Homo sapiens: one gene and its partner. The protein of the gene in region 1 interacts with the protein of each later gene in a biochemical or structural test. Each region holds a gene or a part of one and is shown on either strand. Other genes may lie near its edges.

Region 1 (3,810 bases):
CACTGTGTTGGCCAGGCTGGTCTCGAATTCCTGGGCTTAAGTGATCCGTCAGCCTCAGCCTTCCAAAGTGTTGGGATTACAGGTGTGAGCCACTGCGCCCGGCTACTTTCTCTGTATGTTGAAGGAAATCATCCTGGTGCCTTTGCAGGGCTGTCAGGAGGACTGATTGGTGAGACACCAAGCATAGTACTTAGGACATAGCATGTCAGTGTTGTTATTGGAGCCACAAGCTGCCACTAACTGTTGGTTATTCTCTATGATGGAGACAGAGGAAAGGGGTGAAGAAAACAAGGTATTCACATCTATTTGGTGCAATAATTTGGAGAAGAGTATAGGGTTACTTTAGGGTCAGGGGTGTTGGTGTATGTTTGAACTTGAACATGGGCAAATATTCTCTAAACTGTTCCTCCTGTTTCTAGAGCCTTCCTCATTCTCTATGTTTTGGTGGATTTTTACATATGTGCAGGGAAGTTAGACTGTAACAACTTGAAGGCAAGGAACTGTCTTAATTTTCATCATTTAAAAGTTCATAGCGGGACACAATTCTTCAACATTTAAGCATTTGCTTGAATGAATGAAAAAGGATCAATGTTCAGCAAATGTTTAAAAGTCATTGATGTTTCTGTATCTGAACTAATTGGTGATATTCCTTTATCATAGACATGGCGAGGGCAAAAGTCAATCTGTGTTTTTGTTACTGTAGTCATATCACATTCTTGCATCCTTACAGCTTTATGTCAGTGCTGTTGGAAAATACACCTTTCTTCATTGACTTACTTGCTCCAAACAGGAACTGAAAGGTGGTAATGGTAGCCAATTGACTTTGAAGTTTAGGTTGACAGAATTCTTTTGCAAATGTGATCTTCCCTGAGTCCCACCCACTGTCTTTTCCTTTGCTCCTAACGTGCCCCTGCTACACTAGTTCTGCCTGCTGTTCTCATCTCTGTGGGTACATGTTTGCTTTTGCTGTCTTCTGTTTGTCCTTTTCCTCTCAGCCTAAAACAACCTGGCAGCCCCTGGTCTCCCTCGCCTAGCCCACAGCTCTCTGTCAAGAAGTCTCTTTCTAGATGGAGGGAAGAATCAAATCTGAATTTTATTTTCCATGTGGCACATGCTTTGGCCACATGGTTTACTTTGTAGTGCATGCTCTTGCTCTTGTTTCCTGCACTGGGCTAGTTCAAGCCTTCACCTGTCTTTTCAAGGCACCTCTTCTGTTCTCTGCCCTCCCAGTCTCCTCCTCTGCAAGCTAGACCAGCCACCCTCCAGGCACTTCATTCACGACACCCCTTTCTTGGCTGAGTTTTCAACCTCTCTGGCCCATTCATTTCAGCATATACACAAGTTGAAGTCTCTCTCTTCTGTTTAAACCACCACCATCCCCCACTACCACACAAATACCTTCCCCTCCTCCGCCCTGTATTCCCCCACCGCACATGCCGCTCCGTCTTTCTCCTTCCCTTTCTGGGTTTTTCCTCTTTTGCCTGCTCTTCAGTGATGACATTTCTCTGTCTTCGGGCCCTGGCTCTCTGTTTTTTTTGTTGTTTGTTTTGTTTTGTTTTTTTTTCCTTCACTCCTGCGTGCTGTTTTTGGATGATAAGACCCTTCCTGTGGCTTTAATTGCTGTCCATATGCGGACAACGTGTGACTCTGTATTTTTAGCCCTGATCTGTTTTCTGAGTGCCAGATGTATTCAGACAACTTTGAAATGGACAGTGCCACTTAGTACCCCAGAGAAACCTCATATTCAACTGGTCTGAAAATGAGTTTCTCATCTTCCTTAGGAAACCTGCTCCTCTTCCTCACTTCCCTCAGTGGGCGGCAGGCGCTGCTGTGCACAGTTGTCCCAGCCCAAGATTACGTGGCATGCTTATCTCTTGCCTCCTCCTTGCTGTCACACCCAGGAGTCACAAAGTCTTGTTGATGCTCCTACAGCTCTGGAATATGAGTCCCCACTGGTCCCTGCCACTGCCTTAATCCAGCTCCTTGTAACTTCTCACCTGTATAATAGCAATGGTCACTGTAGTCCAGTTTCTTTCAAATTACGGCAACCACTCTTTCTGCTACTGCACCCTCCACCACTGCTGCTATTGTTTCTACTACTGCTGGGACTAACCCAGCTCTCAGGTGACAGCCAGGAGATTTATGCATCTTACCTCATACCATCAATCCTCCCAACAACTTTATGAAGGAGATGGTGTTATCTTCATTTCTTCATTTTTTGGAGAAAGCAGCTGAGATCTGAGAAGTTGTCCCTTGTCCTTGTCCAAGTTCACACTGATTCCAAAGTCACTTAGCTATGATGCTCCCATTGCTCCCAGTAGCTCCATTTAAGAAGTGCTGATTGCGGCCGGGCGCGGTGGCTCACGCCTGTAATCCCAGCACTTTGGGAGGCTGAGGCGGGCGGATCACGAGGTCAGGAGATCGAGACCATCCCGGCTAAAAAGGTGAAACCCCGTCTCTACTAAAAATACAAAAAATTAGCCGGGCGTAGTGGCGGGCGCCTGTAGTCCCAGCTACTTGGGAGGCTGAGGCAGGAGAAGGGCGTGAACCCGGGAGGCGGAGCTTGCAGTGAGCCGAGATCCCGCCAATGCACTCCAGCCTGGGCGACAGAGCGAGACTCCGTCTCAAAAAAAAAAAAAAAAAAAAAAAAAAAAGAAGTGCTGATTGCAAACCTTGTCCTTCATGGGTGCTAATTTAATCCTCGCAGTAACTCTGCAAGGTAGGTGAAGAAACTGAAGTACAGGGAGTTTGAGCTGCAGGCCTCCGTCAGAGGCCACATGGCGGGCAGGTGGCAGGGTCTCTGGTTCCTGGGTTGGGCCTCCCGCTCTGTCCCTGCTCCAGCTCCCCACGGTGCTTCAGAGCCACCTCCATGGGCTGCAGCTAGTGTGTTTTCTAAAATCCAGGTGGGATCTTGTTCCGCACAGCCTTCAGGATAAAGCAGGAGCCCCTTAGCACGTGACCAGGGCTCAGGGGTTTCCCTGCCCCAGTCTCTGGACTTGTCTCTAGGCACCCCCAGCCCTGCTGTTTCAGCTATCAGCTGAGTCCCTAAGGCAGCTCAGCAGGAGCCCCTCTGCCATAATCACCTCCACCCCCTCCCCTGCCCCCACTCCCTAGCTGTCTAGCTTGCACCTGTTCTTAGCCTGGTACTTGGCAGTGCCTTCCCAGGAGCTTCTCTGATCCATCTCCTGCTGTCAGGCTGGCTCTGTGGCCTTTCCAGGGTCCCTCTTTCTGTAATCCTGTCTCCCACCCTCACTGCAGCCTCCTGAAGGCAGAATCTTGTACCTTTGCAGCCCTGGTGACTCTCACACACCTGGCTGCACTTGGGTGTCTCTGCTATGGACTGAATGTTTGTGTCTCCCCAGATTCATAGGTTGAAACGCTAGTCCCCAGAGTGATGGTATTTGGAGGGAGGACTTCGTGGAGGTCATTAGTGTTAGGTGAGGTCGTGAGGGTGGAGGTCCTGTGATGTGATTAATGCCCTTAAAAGGGGAGGAAGGGGCCAGAGCTCGCTCTCACTGCCATGCAAGGGCACAGCGTGAAAGCACAGCAAGAAGATGGAAGACGGCCACCTGTAGACCAGGAGGAGGATGCTGGCACCCTGATCTCAGACCTCCAGCCTCTAGAACTGTGAGACAGAAATGCTTGTTGTTGAGCCACTCAGTCTGTGCTATTTATTTGACTGTCAGTGAGTGACAGTGGCTGCATCTTCTGGTTACATGATGTGCATTTCAGAAATGTGTTCCCAAAATTAAGCATATGAATATAATTTGGCTCTGCCTGTATTGAAAACCTGCTCTTTCACTGTCAACT
Region 2 (3,810 bases), on another chromosome or scaffold:
TAGAGCCTCCTGCCCAGGTTGATACCAGCCAGTGTTTCTGTCCCCCAGGTGGGATGGCCCCGTAAGAACATGGTGAGGGAACTGCTGCGGGAGCCAGCCGGACTCAGCTTAGTGCTGAAGAAGATCCCGATACCGGAGACCCCCCCACAGGTACCTTCCCCTGCCGCCCCCCGACCTGCCTTCAGACCCCCCCCTCCACAGGTACCTGCCCCCACCACCCCCACACCTGCCTTCAGACCCCCCCCAACAGGCACCTTCCCCTGCTGCGCCCCCCTAGCTCCCTTCAGACCCCCCCACAGGTACCTGCTCCTGCTGCTCCCCTACCCCTGTTGCCCCCCAACCTGCTTTCAGACCCCTGTCTCCATTGCTTTGTTCCTGGTTGTTCCCCAGACGCCCCCTCAGGTCCTGGACTCCCCGCACCAGAGGAGCCCATCACTGTCTCTGGCCCCACTGTCTCCCAGGTAACAGGCTCTGTCCAGGTGTGTCTTGGTGGGGAGACCGTGGGCTCATCTCATCCCCCTTGCCCTCCCCAGGGCCCCATCTGAAGACGTCTTTGCCTTTGACCTGTCTTCAAACCCCAGTCCCGGACCCAGCCCTGCCTGGACAGGTAGTCTCAAAGCTCCATGGATGCCCCGGACACGGCATCTGGGCACCCAGTTCTGACCCCAAGCCTGGGACTGGGCTCATAGACTTTCCCTCTCTCTCCTCCCTCCCTGACAGACTCTGCCTCCCTTGGCCCTGAGCCCCTGCCCATCCCCCCGGAACCCCCAGCCATACTCCCAGCAGGGGTAGCAGGGACTCCAGGGCTCCCTGAATCCCCTGACAAGGTAAGCTCAGGGGCTTAGCAAGGGGGTGGGTGGGTCTGGACCTAGATCCTTCTCTCACCCTTCTGCTGTCCTTTCAGAGTCCTGTTGGTCGGAAGAAATCAAAAGGTATGAGGTGCGCTGGACTAGGTGGGGGTTCCCCTGTTTGAGGAGCTGTTAAAAATCTTTACATGCTGGGCAAGACCACCCCCATCCTTCCCACACAGCCTCTCCTGGAAACAGCTCTGTTTCTAGGGTCAGACAGAGCTGTGCTCCCAGTCTGGGCCTCTCACCAGACTAGAGGCTAACCTGTTTGCTGTGACTGAGCAAACAGGTTAGCCTCTAGTCTTCAGTTTGCTCATCTCTAAAATAAGAAGGGTCATCCCACCTCAGAGATGACACATGTAGCATTCTGAGCAGAGTGTGGGTTCAGAGATCTCACTTGGGGATGCTTGTGGAAGGCAGGGAGTAGGTTTAGCGGGGGCACCTTGCCAGCCCCTCACTGCCCAGCTTGTGCTGTGCTGCTACAGGCCTGGCGACCCGGCTGAGCCGCCGGCGGGTGTCATGCCGTGAGCTGGGCCGGCCGGACTGTGACGGCTGGCTCCTGTTGCGAAAGGCACCGGGCGGCTTCATGGGCCCGCGCTGGCGCCGCCGCTGGTTTGTGCTCAAGGGACACACGCTCTACTGGTACCGCCAGCCCCAGGTAAGACCCCATACACAAAAACAGGTAGGCAAGTGAGTCACTTCCAGGCCTCGATTCTCATCTCTATTCTATCATCCACTCTTATTCCTGGTCCAAGGCTTTGATGTCCCCATCTGTAAAATGGGGACTTTATTCAGAGAGAAATGAGTTAATATATGTATAAAAGCAGTTTGGAAAAGGTATCATAGGAGGTATAGAGAAAAATCTTTTTTTTTTTTTTTTTGGAGACAAAGTCTCACTCTGTTGCCCAGGCCGGAGTGCAGTGGCATCATCTCGGCTCACTGCAAGCTCTACCTTCCGGGTTCACGCCATTCTCCTGCCTCAGCCTCCCGAGCAGCTGGAACTACAGGCGCCCGCCACAACGCCCAGCATATTTTTTGTGTTTTTAGTAGAGACAGGGTTTCACCGTGTTAGCCAGGATGGTCTCGATCTCCTGACCTCGTGATCCACCTGCCTCGGCCTCCCAAAGTGCTGGGATTACAGGCGTGAGCCACCACACCCGGCCCTGAAAAATCTGGGCAACATAGCAAGATGGAGTCTTGCTATGTTGCCCAGCCTTGTCTCAAACTCCTGGGCTCAAGCGTTCTGCCTGCTTCAGCCCGCCAGAATGCTGGGATTATAGGCGTGAGCCACCACATCTGGCCGAAAAATCACGTCTATTCTGCCCACTTCTCCTTATCCTTCTGATATTCTGTCCATCCGAATGATGGGCCATTCATTTACTCATTTATTCATTCAGGATTCAGGTGCCTACTGTGAACCCAGCTCTAGGCTGGGCACTATGGACACAGAGAAGAATTGGATGATTTTTGCTTCTCCAGAACTTAGAGGCTAGTAGGGGAGAGGGATGAATACACACTCAAGGACAATGTAGGGACCGTGTGCTAAGATAAAGGGAAAGCCCAAGGGATATGTGGGAGCACAGCAGAGGTGTCCAGTCCATCCTGAGGAGTCCAGATGCCCCCTGACAATGCAATACCTGGCAGTTAGTTGCATGGGAAGGGGAAAGAAAACCAGGAAGAGAAAGCAGCATTCAGAAAGCTCAGGGGTGTGAAGCAGTTTGGTTTGTGTCTACTGAAGGAACAAATGCATGAGCAAGCTCTTCTTGTTTGGTTTTTTGGTTTTTGTTTTTGAGACAGAGTCTTGCTTTGTCACCCAGGCTGGAGGGCAGTGGCATGATCTCAGCTCACTACAGCCTCAGCCTCCCAGGTTCAAGCGATCCTCCTGCCTCAGCCTCCTGAGTAGCTGGGACTACAGGCACATGCCACCATGCCTAGCTAAGTTTTTTGTTTGTTTTGTTTTGTTTGAGACGCAGTCTCGCTCTGTTGCCCAGGCTGGAGTGCAGTGGCGCAATCGCAGCTCATGGCAACCTTTTCCTCCCAGGTTCGAGCAATTCTCCTACTTCAGCCTCCCGAGTAGCTGGGATTACAGGCACCTGCCACCATGCCTGGCTAATTTTTTGTATTTTTAGTAGAGATGGGGTTTCACCATGTTGGCCAGGCTGGTCTCGAACTCCTGACCTCATGATCTGCCCGCCTCAGCCTCCCAAAGTGCTGGGATTACAGGTGTGAGCCACCACACCCGACCTAAGTTTTTAATTTTTTGTAGAAATGGGCTTTTTTCCCAGTCTGGTCTCAAACTCCTAGGCTCAAATGGTCCTCCTGCCTTGGCCTCCCAAAGTGCTGGGATTACAGGCATGAGCCACCATGCCCGGCCTTCAGGCTCCTCTTTTTTTTTTTTTTGGCTGTTTCTCTGATATCTTTGGCTCCCCTTTCCTGGCTTAGAGGCATCCTTTGGCCACATCTCCTACCCTGACCCCAGATTCCAGCCCTGAGCTCCAGAAACAGAGAGACTTGTTAGAGAGCCCAGGAGATGCCTTCTCCTCTCCACAACTCTCAGGAGCCCGAGGGGTAACTAGGAGCTGACTGGGCCTTGAGGGTATTGGGGTTCCAACCTGACCCTCATGCTGTGATCCCCCCAGGATGAGAAGGCTGAGGGCCTCATCAATGTCTCCAACTATAGTCTGGAAAGTGGACATGATCAGAAGAAGAAATAGTTAAGTCTTGGGGTGTGATGGGCTGGGGGATGGAGACAGAAAGGGAGAGGAAGGGTGATGGGGTAGCAGTGGGAGGTGTGGCAAGTGGCTGGGGCGCCCAGAATCCAGCCTCTCTGGGCTGTGGGTGGGCACGCCCAGGCTGAGTGATGCTCCTCCACTACCTGGCAGTGTGTTTCAGCTCACCCATGATGTGTACAAACCCTTCATCTTCGCTGCTGATACCCTGACAGATCTGAGCATGTGAGTGC

The links.
Region 2: the proteins of PPP1R14C (region 1) and CNKSR1 form a complex in vitro, tested with the Homo sapiens proteins (one large-scale study listed by BioGRID).

The regions. Positions count from the first base shown.
Region 1 is NC_000006.12:150,149,494-150,153,303, forward strand, and holds part of PPP1R14C (protein phosphatase 1 regulatory subunit 14C), read left to right. Parts: intron 1-3,810. UniProt on the Homo sapiens protein: Inhibitor of the PP1 regulatory subunit PPP1CA.
Region 2 is NC_000001.11:26,183,681-26,187,490, forward strand, and holds part of CNKSR1 (connector enhancer of kinase suppressor of ras 1), read left to right. Parts: intron 1-48; coding exon 49-150; intron 151-390; coding exon 391-461; intron 462-533; coding exon 534-607; intron 608-720; coding exon 721-827; intron 828-904; coding exon 905-932; intron 933-1,333; coding exon 1,334-1,506; intron 1,507-3,487; coding exon 3,488-3,561; intron 3,562-3,730; coding exon 3,731-3,802; intron 3,803-3,810. UniProt on the Homo sapiens protein: May function as an adapter protein or regulator of Ras signaling pathways.